4 separate regions of the Homo sapiens genome follow, and all the other regions are linked to region 2. Evidence: fine-mapped expression QTL. A gene starts in region 2. Each other region holds a variant in brackets. All regions are shown on one strand. Distances are between the middles of the regions.

Region 1 (5,162 bases), 240 kb before region 2:
GCACAATCAATAACTTCAGGCTGGGTCGCCTGCCCAGTGTTCCCGTGGAATGGAATGAGATTAATGCTGCTTGGGGCCAGACTGTGTTGCTGCTCCATGCTCTGGCCAATAAGATGGGTCTGAAATTTCAGAGGTAGGAAGTGTAGCCCTTTCTTGGGGAGTGATGTGCATTGATATAATTTGTATCTCCAACCTGGTACTGCTGTCCACCATGTCAGGAGCCCTTGCTGCCCACAGACTGGGAGTTTTCTGTGGCTGAAGAGCTGTCAGCATCTGATTTTCCCCTCATCACAGGGCTCTCTCCACTGATCACACAGTCACTGAGTTGCGTGACTATAGCATAGTTCCCAGCCTACAGTCCCCAGAGCCTTAGTGTTCCTCAGGATATTTTCAGTTTTTGTTTCTTAAATTTAAACCAAAACATAACATTTGTTCATGGAAGGCCCCCAGGCAATTATATAATAAATGTAGTTTGTTCATTAAACAAAATCTTTTAAACATGGATTCAATGGGGAGGTGGGAGAGGGAGTTGAGCATAATAAAAGAAGCCCTTGGCCAGAATGAAGAGTGAAATCATTGGGTTGTAACTTCCCAATAATCACTTTGGGAGGAGTCCTGTATCCATCTCTGTTTGTATCTCTATTTTAGATACCGACTTGTTCCTTACGGAAACCATTCATATCTGGAGTCTCTGACAGACAAATCTAAGGTACTCTGTGAAGCTCCATTTTCACTGGAATACAGAGTTCTTATATCTCTTAAGAAAATGGATGGTTTGCTTTGATATTGGCATTCAATTTATTTTTTAGACCTAGATATGAAGAGCCAGTATATTGTTCAATATCTTGTCTAGTTCAGGTTTAGTTTTGGGGGTCTTGTAGACAGAAATCAGGTTTTGACAGTCTGTTGAGAAGGGATATGGGCAGGTCAGAAGAGGGTGTGTGCACTAGGCTAGGAAAAGAATCACCGTGAGATAGATGTTTACAGGTTGAGTATCACCAGAAGTGTTTTAGATTTTGGATTTTTTTTTTCAGATTTTGGGATATTGGCATATAGATACTAAGATATCTTGGGAATGGGACCCAAGTCTAAACACAAAATTCATTTATGTTTCTTCTTCTGAGACAGAGTCTTGCTCTGTTGCCCAGACTGGAGTGCAGTGGCACGATCTCGGCTCACTGCAACCTCCGCCTCCCAGGTTCAAGTGAGTCTCCTGCCTCAGCCTCTGGAGTAGCTGGGATTACAGGTGCCCACCACCAGGCCCAGCTAATTTTTGTATTTTTAGTAGAGATGGGGTTTTACCATGTTGGACCAGGCTGGTCTCGAACTCCTGACCTCAGGTGATCCACCCGCCTCAGCCTCCCAAAGTTCTAGGATTACAGGCATGAGCCACCGTGCCTGGCCTGTTTTATATATACCTGATACATGTAGTCTGAGGTAATTTCATACAATATTTTAAATAATTTTGTGCATGAAACAAAGCTTGTATACATTGAATCATCAGAAAGCAAAGGGCCGGGTGCAGTGGCTCACGCCTGTAATCCCAGCACTTTGGGAGGCCAAGGCGGGTGGATCACAAGGTCAGGAGATTGAGACCATCCTGGCTAACACAGTGAAACCCCGTCTCTACTAAAAATACAAAAAAAAAAAAAAAATCAGCTGGGCGTGGTGGCAGGTGCCTGTGGTCCCAGCTACTCGGGAGGCAGTGGCAGGAGAATGGCGTGAACCTGGGAGGCAGAGCTTACAGTAAGCCGAGATTGCGCCACTGCACTCCAGCCTGGGCGACAAAGCAAGCCTCTGTCTCAAAAAAAAAAAAAAAAAAAAAAAAAAGCAAAGGTATCAGGTATGGAATTTTCCCCTTGTGGCATCATATCAATGGTCAAAAAGTTTCAGGTTTTGTAGCATTTTTTATTATTTTTATTTATTTATTTATTTTGAGACGGAGTCTCACTCTGTCACCCAGGCTGGAGTGCAGTGGCGTGATCTCGGCTCATTGCAGGCTCTGCCTCCCAGGTTCACGCAGTTCTCCTGCCTCAGCCTCCTCTCCTCCCGAGTAGCTGGGATTACAGGCGCCCACCACAATGCCTGGCTAATTTTTTGTATTTTTGGTAGTGACGGGGTTTCACCATGTTATCCA[T/G]GATGGTCTTGATCTCCTGACCTCATGATCCACCCGCCTTGGCCTCCCAAAGTGCTGGGATTACAGACGTGAGCCACTGTGCCTGGCATATTTTTATTTTTTTTTCTTTTCTTTTTGTGGGTTTTTTTTTTTTTTGAAATGGAGTTTCGCTCTTGTTGCCCAGGCTGAAGTGCAATGGCATGATCTCGGCTTACTGCAACCTCCGCCTCCCGGGTTCAAGCAATTCCCCTGCCTCAGCCTCCTGAGTATCTGGGATTACAGGCATGCACCACCACGCCCGGCTAATTAGGTATTTTTAGTAGAGACGGGGTTTCTCCATGTTGGTCAGGCTAGTCTCAAACTCCCAACCTCAGGTGATCTGCCCACCTTGGCCTCCCAAAGTGCTGGGATTACAGGCGTGAGCCACTGCTCCTGGTCTATTTATTTATTTTTCTTTTCCCATGTACTCTTCCTGGAAAGGTTTTGTAGCAATTTGGATTTTTGGATTAAGGATGCTCAACCTATGGTACATTTTCATTGATAGTGAAACAGTTCTAAGTGCATTGTTACTTGCCCAAGCTTATTGTAGTTGTTCAAATCTATGGAAGATAGAGTCCAGCTACAATACAAGTTTCCAGTGGGATACAGACAGAACATGACTTGAGAGATTGATAGGATTGGGAACAATCTCTGGAAGCCTTTCTTGGTGCCAGATCCATAGCCAGTTTTCTCTTCTTGGGCAGGAGCTGCCGTTATACTGTTCTGGGGGGTTGCGGTTTTTCTGGGACAACAAGTTTGACCATGCAATGGTGGCTTTCCTGGACTGTGTGCAGCAGTTCAAAGAAGAGGTTGAGAAAGGCGAGACACGTTTTTGTCTTCCCTACAGGTCAGTATAGCGCAATGCTGAGTGAACTTGTATAGGACCAAATTGAACAGAATTGAAGCAGCAGTAATAATGGAGGCAAAACAGTATAAATGGTGGGAAAGCAAAAAAATGGCACAGAATCACATGACATTGATGGGCAGAGACTGACCCAGTACTGCAAGCAGGACAGAATGTGACCACCTAGTCCTTGGAGTAGAAGAATGTTGCCTTAGATGGTTTAGGGGGTTTTCTTGGCATAGAGCTCAAGCCTCCTCTCCAGTTTCAAGAAGGTTTTTCCCTGAAGCCCTTGGAAATACACAGGAATGCTTCTTTTGATTTTTCTAGGATCCCATTGATGGATGGAAACTCTAGTTTTTACTTAGAGTAAGGCTGCTTCTATCACCCCAAAACAAAGCATTTCTTTTCTTCTGCCTCCTTTCTCCCCCGCCAAGTTCAGGGATGCCTAGGAAAACAGCAAGAAGTACTGTAACCCTCACTCACCCCTACTCCAGGCTTCTCTTCTCTTTGGGTGTGTGTCCTGTCCCTGTACTCTGCAATGACAATGAGGCTCTTGTGACAGTCTTCTTGATTTTTGGCTTTCAAGCAAATCCAAAATACACTATCATTCCTCACCAAGTGTTCTTTAATAGATAAAATGACGTGAATGGTCCCATGATCAAGTCCCTGCCCCGAACTTACTTAACTCAGATCTCAGTTACTAATGAGTTTTGCTCTGTCCATCTGCAGGATGGATGTGGAGAAAGGCAAGATTGAAGACACAGGAGGCAGTGGCGGCTCCTATTCCATCAAAACCCAGTTTAACTCTGAGGAGCAGTGGACAAAAGCTCTCAAGTTCATGCTGACGAATCTTAAGTGGGGTCTTGCTTGGGTGTCCTCACAATTTTATAACAAATGACTTTTTTCCTTAGGGGGAGGTTTGCCTTAAAGGCTTTTAATTTTGTTTTGTTTGCAAACATGTTTTAAATTAAATTCGGGTAATATTAAACAGTACATGTTTACAATACCAAAAAAGAAAAAATCCACAAAAGCCACTTTATTTTAAAATATCATGTGACAGATACTTTCCAGAGCTACAACATGCCATCTATAGTTGCCAGCCCTGGTCAGTTTTGATTCTTAACCCCATGGACTCCTTTCCCTTTCTTCTCTGAAAAAAACTAATTTAAATTTGCTTTTCTTTTTTTTAACTGAGTTGAATTGAGATTGATGTGTTTTCACTGGATTTTTATCTCTCTCAACTTCCTGCACTTAACAATATGAAATAGAAACTTTTGTCTTTACTGAGATGAGGATATGTTTGAGATGCACAGTTGGATAATGTGGGAAAATGACATCTAAGCTTTACCTGGTCACCATGTGATGTGATCAGATGCTTGAAATTTAACACTTTTCACTTGGTTCTTATACTGAATGCCGACTCTGCTCTGTGTTAGAGATATGAAATGGTGTTTGATACTGTTTGAGACATTATGGAGAGATTTAATTATTTGTAATAAAAGATTTGCTGCAGTCTGAAAACTGCCCAGGGGTGCACTGTTGGGTTTTTCTTTAAAATAGAGTACTTTGTATTCTGGGAGAATCAAGTTCTAATGAATGCAGGTATGTGGAAATTCTGTTGAAACTTCTTTAGAGTTAGTTTTAGTTTTAAAAAAAGACTCTAGTAAAAATAGATAGCTGTTGAGGAAGCCTTGTTTGTGTAGATCTGAATAATGGAACAGAGATGTTAAACTAATTTTAAGGGGAAATAAAGGCTACCTCCTTGATGCTTAGTCAAGGTCACCCAGATAGTCTGTATTTGAGCCCCTGATTAATACTGATTGCAATGCCTGATGTTCCTCTTAATGAAATTAAGCTAAAAGTATAAATACCTTGTTAAACAAAAATGAAACAACTAATCTGTCTCCACCTAGCTTTTTAACATTTTCAGGCTGATATGACAAAAAGGGCATGCTCGTCCACCTTAACTCTCTCTGATAAAGGAAAAATAAGCATGAAATTGGCATACAAAATACAGTTCAAAAGAGACTTGGAATTTTTGTACCCTTAGTATGAAAGTAAACAGAGGGAGGCATGAGTGCAGTGACGGATGGCTGTTTATATTTGGTGGATTCAGCCTCCCTCATGTGTTAGAGGAAGCAACAGTCTTCAGAGCTCTGGCTG
Region 2 (5,157 bases):
CCCTTCATGGGGGTTGTCCTGGTGTGCCTTCACAATCTGCTCATAGTTCCTAAAAGCATGCAGGCCAGGGCTGAGGTGCTGCAGCAGCTCCGCCCACCCAAGAAGAATGACGGGACTATCCTGTGTACTCCCAGGAATGGCAGCCCCAGAGAGCTTCTGGGTGGGGTTCAGTATCAGGGAGATACTGCTTCCAGGTCAGGAAAGGTGGCCCTCTCTCTCCAACCTTCCTTACATTAATCCAACAGGCATTTCCTGAGTGTCTGCCATGTGTAAGGACAGTTGGGGATACACAGTCCTACTGGCTAGCTCAGGAACTAAGAGTATTATCTGTACAGCAGTAACTGATGTGGCCTTTGAACAAGGGAGGGTGTGCAATGAAGTTGCCTCAGAAGTTCTGGTTCCCCCCATTCAGCACCCCTCTTACACTTTCATGATCTTTAGGGCGGTGACATCCTTGCGTAACGTGGACACCTCCTCCTCCTGCTTTTTCTTCTCCTTGTGCAAAAACTGAATGTAGTCAATGGCTAGGGTGGGGGCAAGAAAAAAAGGACAGGTACAGAAGTATTCTCAACCAAGAAGATAAGGCTGACTTTGTTCCCCTTACCCCAGACCCCAACTATCCCATGGCAATCACCACACCAAGGCCGAGCCATGGGTGGGTAGGAGGCACTGGCCTCTTCACAGCCCCGCTTGGCTCCATCCCCTCCAGTGCTTTCCCTAGCCATACTCTTTTGTAGAACGATGGCTTTGCTGAGCTTTTGGGAGCCAATGGAGAAGTCCTGCTGCTGGCAAGTGGGGACGATGGTCTGAAGGTCATCATAGCCTCTCTGTGGAAACAGCAGGGGAAATGGGTTCTTTAACCCTGAGAGATTAAAGCAAAATGGCACAAAGTTCCTCCATGACACCAAGTTCTATGCTCACAAACTCAATGGGGTGGGAAGGCTGCAAGGGAGGTGTTTGTGCCTGGGACTATACTACCTGCCCACCCCCTAGGGTGCCTGGGACTGTCTGAGTGGGTCAGGGCACAGGGAAGCTAAACTATGCAGGGCCCTCCCGCACTGGCTGAGGCACAGGCCTCCCTGTTCACCTTGATGGCGTCCCTCCTCTTCTGCTCAGCCTGAGTGTGTGCGCGCCGCCGCCGGTCTTTGTAGGACTCCTTGTAGGCCTCCTGGTGGTAATCACTGTCCTCATCATCTACGCTCAGAGATGGGGGCAGGGAAAGGTCATCTTGGGGCCCAGTGGGGTCCAGCTAGCCCACCTTTCCCCAGCTGGGAAGAACCTGGTGTCCAGAGAAGGCAGATGGACAGAACCACCTAATGTTCCAGATGAGGTGAAAGATGGTGAGACCTTGTGTCTGATACTTTGGCTCCAGCACCCCTGTGTGGATGGCTGGGGCTTCCCTGTCTAGGAAAGGTACTACAATTATGACATATCTGAGCCCCCCGAGGTCGGGGGGGATGTTACTGCCTACCTGTGTTGGGGACAGAAGAGGCACTGGTGGAACCGATGCTATTAGCTCTGGACACTACACTCCCCTTGCGGGTGCTTTCTACAAAAAGCCCTGGAAAAGAGAGGCCCCAATCACTAAGGGGTGGGGTGGGGAACATTGCCAGACCCTCAGACACCTGTAGGACACAATGGCTTTCTTTTATTTATTTATTTTTTTTTTAGACAGAGTCTCGCTCAGTCGCCCAGGCTAGAGTGCAGTGGCGCGATCTCGGCTCACTGCAAGCTCCGCCTCCCAGGTTCACGCCATTCTCCTGCCTCAGCCTCCCGAGTAGCTGGGACTACAGGCGCCCGCCACCACGCCCGGCTAATTTTTTTGTATTTTTTAGTGGAGACGGGGTTTCACCGTGTTAGCCAGGATGGTCTCGGTCTCCTGACCTCGTGATCCGCCTGCCTCGGCCTCCCAAAGTGCTGGGATTACAGGGGTGAGCCACCGCGCCCGGCCACACAATGGCTTTCTTAAATGCTGACCTCTTCCCTTCAACCCAAAGCCAACCATACTGGGCCCCCCACTTCCTGCCAGACCACGCTGCAGTGCTCTGCTCCCTAGTGTCTACACTGCTCCATAGGCCTGCATGATACCCCCCTGGCTCACAAACGGGCATGTGGACGTGATGAGGGTGTGAGTGATCAGCTGCTCCACTGAGTGGTGAGTGATCAGTTCCACCACTTCCCTGTTCCAGAGCAGAGGGAACTAGGTGTCACCCTCAGTTGTTTTCTGCCCTTGTCCTTCAGCTCCTGCTGTCTCAAGCCAGGAACTCTGCTCAGGGAGAGTGGACTGTGCTCAGGCGTGGTTGGCAACGCCACAAGAATCTAGAGAGCCTGGGCGGGAGTGTCCCTCTAGAGCTTAAGATGGGGCAGCTACTCACCGGGGTCCAGGCTGTTGTCGCTGTAGGCATACTCCACCTGCGGCACAGAGCACGGGAAGGGCCCGTCAGACCTCCGCCCCTAGGGGGAGGCGCCCCTTCCACTGCAGGCACGCACAGCGCGCCCCCCATTCCGGGAAGGCGCCTCTGTCACCCTGCGCGCTTGCACACACACAGCCCGGGGTGCGCGGGCAGCTTAATGAGTCCCCCGAGACTGGCACAGGCTAGGGCGTGCGAGTGCCTCCCCTGTGTATGATCCCTTCCGCCCCTACTCCACCCCAGTGCCCCGTTCCCCCGACTCGCGCGCACACGCCTCGTTTGTCTCCCCACCTTGGCACACGCGGGGTGAGAGCTGTCTTCTCTGCAGCCCCGGGGCACGGAGAGCGTGGGGGACTTTGGGGACAGGAGGGAAGCCCCTCGTCTTCCGGCCCCCCTACGTGCACGAGCCCGACCCGCCCTCCCCTCGCCGGCGTGCGCGCCCACGGGGCTTGCCTTGACCCAAGGGTCCTCGGGAGAGGCGCCCGGCTCCGTCATCTTGTACCCACCGGACCGGAAACGGGCCAGCGGGCGGGCCCCCTGCGGCGAGGAAGCGGGTGGCGTGCCCACGTGACCCGCGCCCGCCAATCCGCGACCGAGAGGTGGGGCAGGGCGAAGCATCGCGCATGCGCAGCCCAAAGACTTTACTCCACGGTTCCAGCCGTCAAGGCCCGGCGCTTGGCCTGGCGCCAGCCTCCTTCGAGACTGCTCCCCGCCGTGCCTGCCCTCCCCGGGTTAGGCAGTGGAATGGCGGCGACATGAAGCGCGTTTTGTAAGATGGAGTCCCCTCAATTGGCTTGTCAGCACACCGCCGCAGATAGTGTGTGCACGCGCACTGTCCGGCCGGCCGGCTCCCCACGTTACCCTGAGGGCGGCCTCCCCGCGCTCACCGGACCTGCACTGCTGGCCGGTGTGTCAGGAACCGGGCAGAGAAGCCCCCAGCCACATCGTCCGACCCCACCAGGCTGCAAGCTCTGTGAGGGCAGAGGCCCCGCCTGGCGCGCGGAAGGCTGATCTTCCAACACCCAGCCCAGTGTCTGGCAGGATGCATGTGGAATGAACCCTTGCAAAGAACCTGCTAGCTAGGTTATGCGGCCTCTCATATTAAAAACAAAACAAAAACAATAAAACACGGCAGTACCTAGAAAGTCTACACCTTACTCAGAAGAACACAGCTGGTCAGTGGGAGGGCCAAAGCTCGCCTCTGGCTAGCCTCAAAGGCCATTCTCTTAACCACTGCATTGCCCAGGCTTCCAGCTCAGGCCTGGGCCCTGCACTTGTGGCTTAAGGATCCCAAAGATACTTAGGGGCATTGGAACAGGAAGCAGACACCATACAAGCAACATCTCAGAACATTCACCTTTAATTCTGTTACAGGTTCCAGTATTTGCGCTGGCCCTAGTCAGCTGTGGGTAAGAGTCACCCATGGGCAAGAGTGGGGAGGGGACTGCTCCCCCATGAACCACATCCTCAGTGTTGGCCAAATACCAGCGTGTTGGGTAGGCTTCCTGTGTCCACCAGGCCTGGCCATGTCCTGCACAGTATAGCTTGGACCTCTGGGCCTGAACCAGGGTGAGCATCAAGGCCCCCATTTCTCCTCACCACGGGGTCGCTTGTCAGCTCCAGGAGCCAGTCTGGCCCCACTGAGAACTTTTCAGTCGAGGGCCTGATGAGTCTTGGGAATGCGCTTCTGCAAGAGGGCCCAGGCTTTCTCCACCTTCAGACAGGCCAGGATGTTGGGAGGAAGAGAGGGCAGGGTCAGGCAGTACCCACTGGAGACTCCTTCCCCACAACCCGGCCTTGCCCTGGGCACCAACCTGGCGTTGGGTGATATGCGGCTCCCACAAGGTGCTGAGCACCACGTGGCTCTGTTCCACAAGCTGCTGCCCGCTCATCTGGCTCTGCAGCCGGCTTTGAGCCGCGGCTTCACTGAGGCCATCCCTCTCCACAATGCGTCTTACAGCCTGAGCACAGACGAGACATTTGTCAGGAAGAATTCCAGCTCACAGGATAGGATCTGCAGTAGGGATGGTGTGGGGGGTGGGGCGAGATACCTCAGTCTCTGGGATGACAGCAGTCCACACCTCATGGACCAGGTTCTGCCAGCCGGCTTCAAGCAACACAGCGGCATCAATCACACACACACGCTTTCCTGTGGGGAGACCCCAGTCACCGCCAGCAGTGCCGACGTTCTCCCAGGCAGAACACAGTCCCAGGGTGAACAGACAGTCCCACGTTGGGCAGGGAAGCTCCCAGGGGAAGAAACAGCTTAACTGTCCCCTTAGCTGTTGCCATCCTCCCTCCCACTCACCCTCAGCCACAGCCCGATCCATCTCCTCTCGGGCCAGCTTTGCGATAATTGGCCACATAATGTCCGTGAGTATCTTCAGCTGCTTCTGGGGAGGGGAACAGAGGGCAGAGGTTACCTTCTCTAGAAGAGGCAGCCAGCCCGAGCAAGGTGGTGTTGGGAACAGATCAATGGAAATGGCATTCTGGGCCAGACCAGAGAGGTCCACTGGACCCTGACCCCTGGGTCTAGTAGCGGCTTAGGAGCCCTTAGGAAGTTATTGTTTACCTTATTCCCAAACACCCGGCTGCCTAGGACCTTCCTGTTGATGATGCCATCTTTATGGAGAATATCTGGACAACACAGACAGACAACTGAGCACAGAGGCCTGGCTAGCTCCTCACTCCAGGCCACTTTCAGCCTTCCCCAGTTATTACCTGTTCCAAAGGCCTCCACCACAGG
Region 3 (5,000 bases), 160 kb after region 2:
GGGGGAAACCTGGCCTGGAGTGGAGAGGAAAAGCTAATGGTGAAATACCCTCTCCAGAGCCAGCCTATTGGACATCATCCCAGGATTCAGCTCAAGTTGTTTCGTCTCCTGTCCCCTGACCTTCCACCAAGAAGGCAGCTCCTATGGTGTAAGCCGTCACTCCAGGGGAAGCCTACGATGAATGGGGTTAGAGCCCCCAGATCCCTTACTGGTCTGGAGAGATTTCTAAATCCAGGAATAAACCTCCCCTTGGCCAGGCACAGTGGCTCATGCGAGAAATCTCAGCACTTTGGGAGGCCGAGGCAAGGGGATCACTTGAGCCCAGGAGTTTGAGACCAGCCTGGGCAACATAGTGAGACTCTGCCTGTACAAAAACTACAAAAATTAGCTGGGCATGGTGGCGTGCGCCTGTAGTTCCAGCTACTTGGGAGGCTGAGGTGGGAGGATCACTAGAGCCCAGGAGGTTGAGGCTGTAGTGACCTGTAATCATGCCACTGCACTTCAGCCTGGTTGACAGAACAAGACCCCATCTCAAAACAAACAAACAAAAACACAAAAATGGCCAGATGCGGTGGCTCGTGCCTGTAATCCCAGCACTTTGGGAGGCCGAGGTGGGAGGATCCCTTGAGGTCAGGAGTTTGAGAACAGCCTGGCCAACATGGTGAAACCCTGTCTCTACCAAAAAATACAAAAACTAGCCAGGTGTGGTGGTGCATGCCTGTAATCCCAGCTACTTGGGAGGCTGAGGCAGGAGAACTGCTTGAACCCAGGAGGCAGAGGTTGCAGTGAGCCGAGATCGCGCCACTGCACTCCAACCTAGGTGACAGAGTGAGACCATGTCTCAAAAAAAAAAAAAAAAAAGGCCGGGCACGGTGGCTTAGGCTTGTAATCCCAGCACTTTGGGAGGCTGAGGAGGGCGAATCACATGAGGTTGGGAGTTCAAGACCAGCCTGATCAACATGGAGAAACCCCGTCTCTACTAAAAATACAAAATTAGCCAGGTGTGGTGGCACATGCCTGTAATCTCAGCTATTTGGGAGGCCCAGGCAGGAGAATTGCTTGAACCTAGGAGGCGGATGTTGCGGTGAGCCGAGATCGTGTCATTGCACTCCAGCCTGGGGAGCAAGAGCAAAACTCCATCTCAAAAAAAACAAAAAAACTAAAAAACAAAAACCTCCTCTCACTAGGATTGCTTCCTTATGTTGTAGTTTGAGACCTTTCATGAGGCACTAGGAAGATGGCATTGGCTATAAGAAGTCTGCAGCTCTCTCCCCAGTCCCATTCACTTCCAAGTTCAGCTGGCAAAGACCTTTATCTAGGAAGCCACAGGCCAGGAAAACCAGCCAGCTCAGCCTTTAGGGGTGGGGTGGAGCAGGCAGCAGGGGTAGGGGAGAAGCGGGGGATGCTGGGGGTAGGGCAGAGAGACAAAGTGGATTTGTTTTCCAGCAGCTGGGGCTGTTTCCTGACTATTCCCTGCCTGTCACCCTTAATCCCTCCCTAGCCTATTCACATTGTCTGAGTTTAGTGAAAGGAGGGGCTCTCTCCACCCTTTGGTGGGGCGTGGGTGGGTTTTTAAGTCTGGGAGGTTATGAAGGAAAGATCAGAGCTGAATTTTTTTTAATATATATATATACTGGGGCTGCAGGTAAATTCTGGGTGGAGATGGATGAAGAGGGTTTAGATCCTACAATGATGTATAAGTCTTAAATGATATGCACTCCAGTAGCAGGCAGGGTAAGGGTGATTGTAGGAGCCCCAAAGTGAATGACTGGAAATCAGAGGGAATGCAAAGAGAAGTTGAGACTCTCCTACACTCAGAACAAGGAAAACACCCTTCAATGCCTCAGTGAATGATAAGAGGCAGAGGGATAAACAAAATGCCCTAGGATTGCCCATGATCTGCACTAAGCCGTCTATGGCAGGTAGAGACTACAAGTCCCAGCATGCCCTGTGCCCAGGTCACCTTGCCTGCTGGGAGGTGTAGTTGGGTAACAGAGAGCTGGAGGTGGCTTGGTGCCCAGCAGAGCTGATGCCCAGATGAGAGAAGAGGTGGAGCCAGCATTCCCTCTTTGTCCCTGCTAATGCTATTGACAAGAAGGGAAGGAAGTTGGGAGAGGGTGTTCCTAGTTTTCAGTGTAAACCAGGAAACTCTGGGGGGATGTTGATGGGAGGGAAGAGGAAAGAGGTTGGGGGCTGGGGAAGGAATTTCTGTAGCAGGTGGTGCAGAGATACCGAGCAGCCTATGTATAGGGGTGTGTGTGTGTGGTGTCAGTGAGAGGACTCAGTTTATGTTGCCTTAATTTCTTAGGGGACAGGATTTTTCTTATAATTCTGGGAAATGGTCTTCAGAAAACCCTTTAGAAAAGCGACTATCTCTCGTTCCTTCATTTGAAGTCACTAAAGGGAGTCTGGGCCAAAGAGATCCTATTGATGATCTTGGTCTGCCCTTTCCCTTTCTGTGCTCAGCCTCCCCTGCTCTCTGATGAGGGTGGAGGTGGGGGAGGGAGTGATCCAGAGATTCTGAAATGTTGGCCAGAGTCAAGATCTTGGAAAATCTTCCCGGAATGGAAAGCAGTTCTGGTGCTAAGTCCTCCAAGGAGAAGACAGAAAAGCAAAGAACTGGTTCTGAGCTCCAGGGTCATGGGGAATCTGAGACCACCCATCCTACTCCTAGACCCCTGAGCTCAGGCTTTGTGCTGGGGGCAGGGGGTAGGGAAAGCAAGAATTGAAAAGTAATCTCTCTTCTATCCCAAAGTAGGGAAGTCACAACCAGAAGAAATGTCCAGACTGGGGAGAAAACATGTCCGTGGCTCCCAGCCAGCTTCTTCCTCTTTCCAATATCAATTTCTAAATGTGGGGGAGGGGGAGAATGACCACTGGTGGAGCCAAACAGTATGAAGGAGTCAAAGAAGGTGGAGGTGGGGGAGGGTGGACCACAGTTCTCCATCTCTAAGGCTGGTTCTGAAATAGCTTGAGGCCAGGAGCAGTGGCTTATGCCTGTAATCCCAGCACTTTGGGAGGCCAAGGCGG[GT/T]GGATCATTTGAGGTCAGGGGTTCGAGACCAATCTGACCAACATGGTGAAACCCCGAGTCTACTAAAAATACAAAAAAATTAGCCAGGTGTGGTGGCGCATGCCTGCAGTCCCAGCTACTCAGGAGGCTGAGGCAGGAGAATTGCTTGAACCTGGGAGGCAGAGGTTGCAGTCAGCAGAGATCGTGTCACTGCACTGCAGCCTGGGCGACAAAGCGAGACTCCATCTCAAAAAAAAAAAAAAAAAGAAATAGCTTGAGTCTAGGAAATGCACTTCCTTTACTTTACCTGCTTGGGTGGGTAGGTGCAGCTGTGGGCTCAAACCCCTACCCGCTTTCAACTTAGACACTCCCACCACTTGCTTTTCGGCCTGGCTCGGGCAGTGTGCGATTTGCGGCACCAGAGGGCGCTCCGCCCATTTCCAAAGTGGAGCTGTGTCTCCCGAGGGCCGTAGTGGTTTAATATCATCTACGGGTGGAAAGGGATCAGGACAGGGTTGGACGACCACAGAGATTTTAGCCCAAGTGCAATTATTACGCAACCCCATCTCCGACCCGAAGTTTGGTCCCCTGCTCCCGCGGTCTGTTTAGTCACCATTCGTTCAACACACATGTTTTTTAGAGAATGGCGGCGCGAGGCCGGGCGCAGTGGCTCACGCCTGTAATCCCAGAACTTTGGGAGGCCGAGGCGGGCGGATCACCTGAGGTCGGGAGTTCGAGACCAGCCTGACCAATATGGAGAAACACCGTCTCTATTAAAGATACAAAATTTAGCCGGCGTGGTGGCGGGCGCCTGTAATCCCAGCTATTCGGGAGGCTGAGGCAGGAGAATTGCTTGAACCCGGGTGGCGGAGGTTGCGGTGAGCCAAGATCGCGCCCACTGCACTCCAGCCTCGGCAACAGATCGAGACTCCGTTTAAAAAAAAAAAAAAAAAAAAAAACAAGGAGAGAGAGAGAGAAAGAATGGCGACGCGGGGTTGGGGGGCCGGAGATGGGTGATATGTTGCCCAGGCTGGTCTCGAACTCCTGGACTCAAGCCATCCTCCTGCCTCGGTCTCCCACAGCGCTAATATTACAGGCGTGAGCCTACACACATTTATTGAGCGCCCGCCAGTTTCCTGGGGACCACGAGCGTCCCATGCTCCCCTCTCTCCAGGATCGTCACCACCCTGACTCAGGCTCGCCCACATCCGCCTCCTCCGACGCCTCTCATGTCCCTTCTCCTCTTCCCTTAGGATGAAGTGAAGCTGCCGGCCAAACTGAGCATCAGCAAATCGCTGAAAGAGTCGGAGGCGCTGCCAGAGAAGGAGGGCGAGGAGCTGGGCGAGGGCGAGCGGCCCGAGGAGGACGCAGCGGCGCTGGAGCTTTCGTCGGACGAGGCGGTGGAGGTTGAGGAGGTTATTGAGGAGTCCCGCGCAGAGCGTATCAAGCGCAGCGGCCTGCGGCGCGTGGACGACTTCAAGAAGGCCTTCTCCAAGGAGAAGATGGAGAAGACCAAGGTGCGTACCCGCGAGAACCTGGAGAAGACGCGCCTCAAGACCAAGGAAAACCTGGAGAAGACGCGGCACACCCTGGAGAAGCGCATGAACAAGCTGGGCACGCGCCTGGTGCCCGCCGAGCGGCGCGAGAAACTGAAGACGTCGCGGGACAAGTTGCGCAAATCCTTCACGCCCGACCACGTGGTGTACGCGCGCTCCAAGACCGCGGTCTACAAGGTGCCACCCTTCACCTTCCACGTCAAGAAGATCCGCGAGGGCCAGGTGGAAGTGCTCAAGGCCACCGAGATGGTGGAGGTGGGCGCCGACGACGACGAGGGCGGCGCGGAGCGCGGGGAGGCCGGCGACCTGCGGCGCGGGAGCAGCCCCGACGTGCACGCGCTGCTGGAGATCACCGAGGAGTCGGACGCCGTGCTGGTGGACAAGAGCGACAGCGACTGAGCCGCCCCCGCTGCCACCCACCCCATTCCTCGCTC
Region 4 (5,193 bases), 460 kb before region 2:
ACCCAGGAGGCAGAGGTTGCAGTGAGCCGAGATGGTGCCACTGCACTCCAGCCTGAATGACAGAGTGAAACTCCGTCTCAAAAAAAAAAAAAAAAAAAAAAAAAAAACACAGAAACTCTGGCAGCCATCACAGTGTGATTATTTGTTTATTTCATTAAATGTTTAACGAGGCTACATTGTTTCCCAAACCAATGTCTAATTTGTGAAGGAAACAGCGCAGAGAAGGAAGCTGGGTGACTCCTGCATCTGGGGTGGGGAAGGGAGTAAGGTCCCCTCCCTCCATCCTACAGAGGCCTTTGAGGATCAGCAACAGTCCCATTCCCTCCTCCCACCCACTGAGCTCCTCAGCCCAGAGCCCTCCTCCCCAGAAATAAAACGTCTGGCAACCCAGACCTGCAGAAAGGGACCAAAAATCCATTCCTGGTGGTATTGAAAATGTATTAAACTTTGGGGGGTCCTCCAGCTGATTGATTTTTCTAATTATGTTTGCTTTAGATGGATATTTAAATGCATTTGCATTCCCTGAGCTCACATGGCAGGATATGGAGGTTGGAGGAAAGAGGGGGCACAAACACTCCACACTCTGCACTTTGGTGGTTGCAGGCTTGAACCTGCTATACACTGAGAAGTCCAAAGTGGAAAAGAGAAGCCACTCAGCTAAAAATCGCAAGTCGATTTTTATGGCAGGTCCTTGTGGGGAAAGGGTCAGTCCTCAGAGACAGATGGAGATCCACCTAGCTGGGCCTGGAGCCCCTGCCCTCTCCTGTACCCTTAGCCGAGGACTCAGGGTCTTTGAGTCAGTCCCTAACCAGGTCTCAGTTTGAGGGGGTGGTTATCCAAGCACACTTAGATAATTTCAAATGCCATTGAAGTTATCCTAGAATCTTTGAGACTGGCTGAGATGAACTAGTCCCATAGGAGAGGTTGGGATAGGGATATCTGATGATCCAGGGAGTGGTGGGTAGGGATTCCTTTCCTCTCAAGACTGGAACCTGGCATAAGGGAAAGGAGAAGCTATTTTTTATTTTTTATTTTTTAATTTTTTTTAGAGACAGGGTCTCACTCTGACACTCAGGCTGGAAGACAATGGCATGATCATAGCTCACTGCAGTCTCTAACTCCTGGCCTCAAGCGATCCTCCCAGCTTGGCCTCCCAAAGGAGGAATCTTGGCTGGGATTATAGGTGTGAGCCACTGCCGAGAAGCTATTATTTTAAATGACACACCTCAGAGCCAAATCTCCCAGCTCCAACACCACATCCAGATAACCATCTATCCAAAAAACAACTCTGATCACTTCACTCTCTGCCTGAAATTCCTGGTGGCTTCATCCTCTGAGGATGATTTCATTCATCCTCAGAATGAAATTCTGATTCCTCTGTGGACCCTGCAGTAGCCTCAGTGTACCTTCCTAGCCTTGTCTTCTATTCTCCCTGCCATGGGAGCCCCAACAGTGCTATGCTCATTCTCATCTCCACGTGTTTACACATGCTGTACCCTCTGCCCAGAGTGCCTTTCCTACCCCTTCCCTGCCCGGAAAACTCCTCTTCAACCCTCAGGACCTGGCTCACAGGACTGGCTTCTCAGGCTGCAAGGAGCTCCCATAGCATCCCATACATGTACAAATATCCCTCAGCCATGGCACCCTCACACCTGAGGTACCTCTCTTCCACACTGGGCTGGCCTCCAAAAGCTTAGAGACTGGTCCTTGCAATCTCCCAAGCCAGTGTATGCCACACAGTTGGTGTTCAGTACATACTTGCTGAATGAATGAATGAGGGAGGAATGGGCTATAAATTTGGGTGGGATCCCAGCAGATAGTTGGGTAAGGTCAGTGTTCTCTTCCAGTGTGTCTGGGAGAACTGGCTAGGGCTGGGGGAGGGAAGGGCCAGGGATGGTTCCTGGGGGAGAATGTCACCGAAAAGAGGCCAGTGGGACCAGAGCCAGGAAGGGAATACAGGACAATCTGAAACCAGACTCCCGAGAAAACAGACCAGTACTGTCTTTCCTGACAACAGGCGCTCAGCCGTCCTCTCCACCGTCTTTCCTTTAAGGGACAGGGTAGGGGTGACTCTAACAGCTGATGCTCCCCTGAAAGCCATCATGAAACTCAGCATGGGAGGAGAGAAAGGTCCCTGGCCTGAGCCTCTAAGGAGACCCCAGAATCAAACTACTGACCTCTTAGGAAACTTCACGCTGTACAGGGGTAGCTTCTGTGATGTGGAGGCTTTTGATGCCTTCTTTTTTTTTTTTTTTTTTTTTTTT[G/TTG]GAGACAGAGTCTTGCTCTGTCATCCAGGCTAGAATGCAGTGGCGCAATCTCGGCTCACTGCAAGCTCCGCCTCCCAGGTTCACCCGGGTTCACACCATTCTCCTGCCTCAGCCTCCCGAGCAGCTGGGACTACAGGCACTGCCACCGCGCCTGGCTAATTTTTTGTATTTTTAGTAGAGATGGGGTTTCACCGTGTTAGCCAGGATGGTCTCGATCTCCTGAACTTGTGATCCGCCCACCTCGGCCTCCCAAAGTGCTGGGATTACAGGCGTGAGCCAGCGCGCCCGGCCTGATGCCTCCTTATCCCCACAACCCCCAGGGTACCAGCAGGCTCCAAGCCAGGGGTACAGATGGTGAGCAGGACCCCTCCCACACTAGCAGCAGGCCTGGCTGGGCTGAGAAATGCTGACTAATTATATGTCGGTCTGCTCTAAAACCCCCTAATGGCCTGAGAATTGCCCACTTCATTAACTAGGATGAACAGTCCCAGGATGTCTCCTTCTCCCAACTCTGACTCCTAAAAGGACACTTCTGATCCAACCTATGGCTTTGTCCTCTGCTCTATCTGTGGACATGGACAGGAAAGTTCCCCAGCTGAGGTCTAACTTTCCCTCTTACTGCTAAAGATTGGTAGATTGATTTTTTTAAAAAGCAACAAAACTAAAGCCACAGCCGTTTTCCATGGAGGTGGGCTTTATTAGGTGACTGTTGAGGCAAGGGAGGTTCTAGGGCTGGTGGACTGATGGGGGGCAAGGGCTTCTCCTTGCTTTTGAATTTAGTGCATGTTGCCTAGAGGTTAGATGTGTGAGAATAGCTGCAGAAGTGAGAGGAGAGGAAAAGAGAAGGTCATAGAATGGACATTTTCCTTGGGCCAGAACCAGGATATGGGGACTGGGGGTGGAGAGGGAGGGTACTCTTCACATAGGAGACTCCACCAAGGTCACCATTTGATACCAGCTTCCCTAACGCCCACCTGCCCCATCCCAGTTCATGCCCCAGATGCCAGCCCTGTTAGCTCCCTCAACATCCACTGGAGAAGAGGAGGGAGGAGGAGATGAGAAACGATGATACCCTTCTGCCCTCCAGCTCCCCTGCCCAGAATTGCTCGCTCTGCCTGCCCTAACTTCCCAGCCAGGATCAGGAGGTCAGGAAGCCTGGGCGCAGGCAGGGGAACAATTGTGTCCCTCACCACCCCTCTTCACACTCTGCCCTCTCCTAGCCCCTCACATGAGGTTGCAGCTTTTGGCTCGATCCTTGTGTATCTCGCCCTCATTCCCCCGGTCTGGCCGTCCTGACAGCTGAGCGGATCGCTGCATTCCCCGGCGTGAGTCAGTTCGGCGCAGCTGCCTATGGCCACGGCCAAGGGAGGCCACTGTAGCCACATGGAAGACATCCCTGACGCTGCGCTCAGAGGACCGGGAGGAGCACTCAACATAGGACACAGCCCCCACCTGCTTGGCCAGCACAGTGCCCTGGAAAAGGAAGGAGTGCATGGGAGAAAGTTATAGGTCTTAGCCTGCAGCTTAGAAAGGGGCATGGAGGCTGTGGGCTGGGGTTGAATGTCAAGGCTGGGGGCAGTCAAGGGATCAGGTCAGAGGTCACAGACCAGAACAAAGGATGAGCCAGGTAAGGTGTTTTCAAATCAGAGACTGAAGGGGCAGAGGTGACAGGTCTAGGCTGGGATGAGGTCAGACGTCAAGGGTCCCACCTGCTCATGTGTAACAGGGATAAGCCTCTGCTTGGACAGCTCCCTCAGTGTGGCCAGGTCAGTCCGCATGTCCAGTTTACAGCCAACCAGCACAACCTTGGCATTGGGGCAGAACTCTTGAGTCTCTCCTTGCCACTATGTAGGAGAAGAAAAGAGAATTGTGGAGGGGTGGAGGGAGGCACAGCGTGAGCCTTTGTGCCATGCCAGCAGTGTGCCCTCTCTTCCTCAAGCACGCAGAAACCATGTATCCCTCAGGACTCTCCCACATGAGGAAGGAGGTGAGAATGCTAGGCTTGGTTTGAGAGCAGGATGGGGTGAGAGAGAAGCAGCGGGGAGGAGAGGGCTGGCGTGGGCCTGTGGACTCTTCTCCCTCAGTGGCTATGAAGGGTCTGCCAGCCTGGAAACTTCCCATTCCCACTCGCCTTTCCCATACTCTCTCCTGGGAACAAATTTATCCCACCCTCCCCTCCCCCACCTGGGAACTGGGGCTGCCCTAGCTGACTTCTGTCCATTCACCCCTGGCTTTTGTCATGGAAACTGGGGCCTGGAGAGGAGGCCACAGGGCTTTCCTGAGCTCCAGGATCAGGCTTCCCATCCCATCCCCTCCATCTGGGACTCCCACTGCCAAGGAGTTGGAAGAGCAGAGAAGGAATCCTGTGAGTGCTTCTCCCTTCACTCCCCCACCTCCCCTAGCTGCTGTATCCAGCTCTGAGGACTTTCAGGAAAGGGGTGGCTGGGAGGGATGGGGGCTGGAGGCAGGGGTGGCAGGGATGAGAGCTTCACTCGCTAACCAGCTGATGGCCATACCCCAGCCATCACTCCCTCCTCCTGGCCCATGTTATGTCAGGACCATGGTGGTCTGGTCCCCCTCAGTCTAGCTGCCCTATTTCCCCAGGCTCCCACCTTCTTGAGAACACTGTCCAGTGTTTCTGGTCGGCTAATGTCGAAGCAGATGAGCACAGCATCAGAATCAGGATAGGCCAGAGGCCGGACATTATCATAGTAAGAGGAACCTGAAGGAAGACAGGGCATGAGGGGCCTGAGTGGATGGGAGGCCTGGAAGGGAATGGGAGACCTTACAGATCCTGGTCAAGGGATGCTGGGAGCAGAGAATGGAAAAGAGCAACCATTAATACCCATCATTAATACCCATCATGGAGTCTGGGTTTCCCAAGTGGGGGAGCGGGCAGAAGGGAGGTCACATGGTGGGAAACGGCTCT

Direction of the effects. Positions count from the first base shown, and alleles are read on the strand shown. Sizes are in standard deviations (SD) of each study's normalised expression. Not every link is listed here.
In carriers of allele TTG in region 4, the expression in monocytes after LPS of the gene that starts at base 2,931 in region 2 tends to be higher than with G alone (large effect, 1.7 SD a copy in Quach 2016).

What was found.
Region 1: its variant is fine-mapped to the expression of MLX in whole blood (TOPMed, PIP 0.96).
Region 3: its variant is fine-mapped to the expression of MLX in whole blood (TOPMed, PIP above 0.99).
Region 4: its variant is fine-mapped to the expression of MLX in monocytes after LPS (Quach 2016, PIP 0.95).

What each region holds. Positions count from the first base shown.
Region 1 is chr17:42,809,495-42,814,656 of GRCh38, reverse strand. CNTD1 (cyclin N-terminal domain containing 1) reads right to left here. Exons shown (of 7, transcript NM_173478.3): 7 at 3,070-5,162. The coding sequence ends at 5,122. It overlaps BECN1 (beclin 1), which reads left to right. Exons shown (of 12, transcript NM_001313998.2): 9 at 1-133; 10 at 649-709; 11 at 2,860-3,002; 12 at 3,729-4,523. The coding sequence ends at 3,897. Among named protein-coding and RNA genes, the nearest start is that of MIR6781, 12 kb to the left of the region's middle. The variant T/G (reference allele first, on the strand shown) is at 2,138.
Region 2 is chr17:42,564,874-42,570,030 of GRCh38, reverse strand. MLX (MAX dimerization protein MLX) reads right to left here and starts at 2,931. Exons shown (of 8, transcript NM_198204.2): 1 at 2,865-2,931; 2 at 2,376-2,412; 3 at 1,472-1,561; 4 at 1,088-1,194; 5 at 728-827; 6 at 425-524; 7 at 1-49. The coding sequence starts at 2,906. COASY (Coenzyme A synthase) reads right to left here. Exons shown (of 9, transcript NM_025233.7): 4 at 5,133-5,157; 5 at 4,984-5,048; 6 at 4,720-4,804; 7 at 4,463-4,560; 8 at 4,226-4,372; 9 at 3,754-4,125. The coding sequence ends at 4,063. RefSeq lists enhancers at 2,180-2,269, 2,145-2,652, 3,410-3,459, 3,666-4,172, 4,173-4,679 and a silencer at 2,670-3,069.
Region 3 is chr17:42,404,652-42,409,651 of GRCh38, reverse strand. CAVIN1 (caveolae associated protein 1) reads left to right here. Exons shown (of 2, transcript NM_012232.6): 2 at 4,264-5,000. The coding sequence ends at 4,965. Among named protein-coding and RNA genes, the nearest start is that of CAVIN1, 16 kb to the left of the region's middle. RefSeq lists an enhancer at 3,292-3,341. The variant GT/T (reference allele first, on the strand shown) is at 3,031.
Region 4 is chr17:43,026,976-43,032,168 of GRCh38, reverse strand. RND2 (Rho family GTPase 2) reads right to left here. Exons shown (of 5, transcript NM_005440.5): 3 at 4,877-4,986; 4 at 3,974-4,108; 5 at 128-3,737. The coding sequence ends at 3,489. Among named protein-coding and RNA genes, the nearest start is that of RND2, 4.3 kb to the right of the region's middle. The variant G/TTG (reference allele first, on the strand shown) is at 2,265.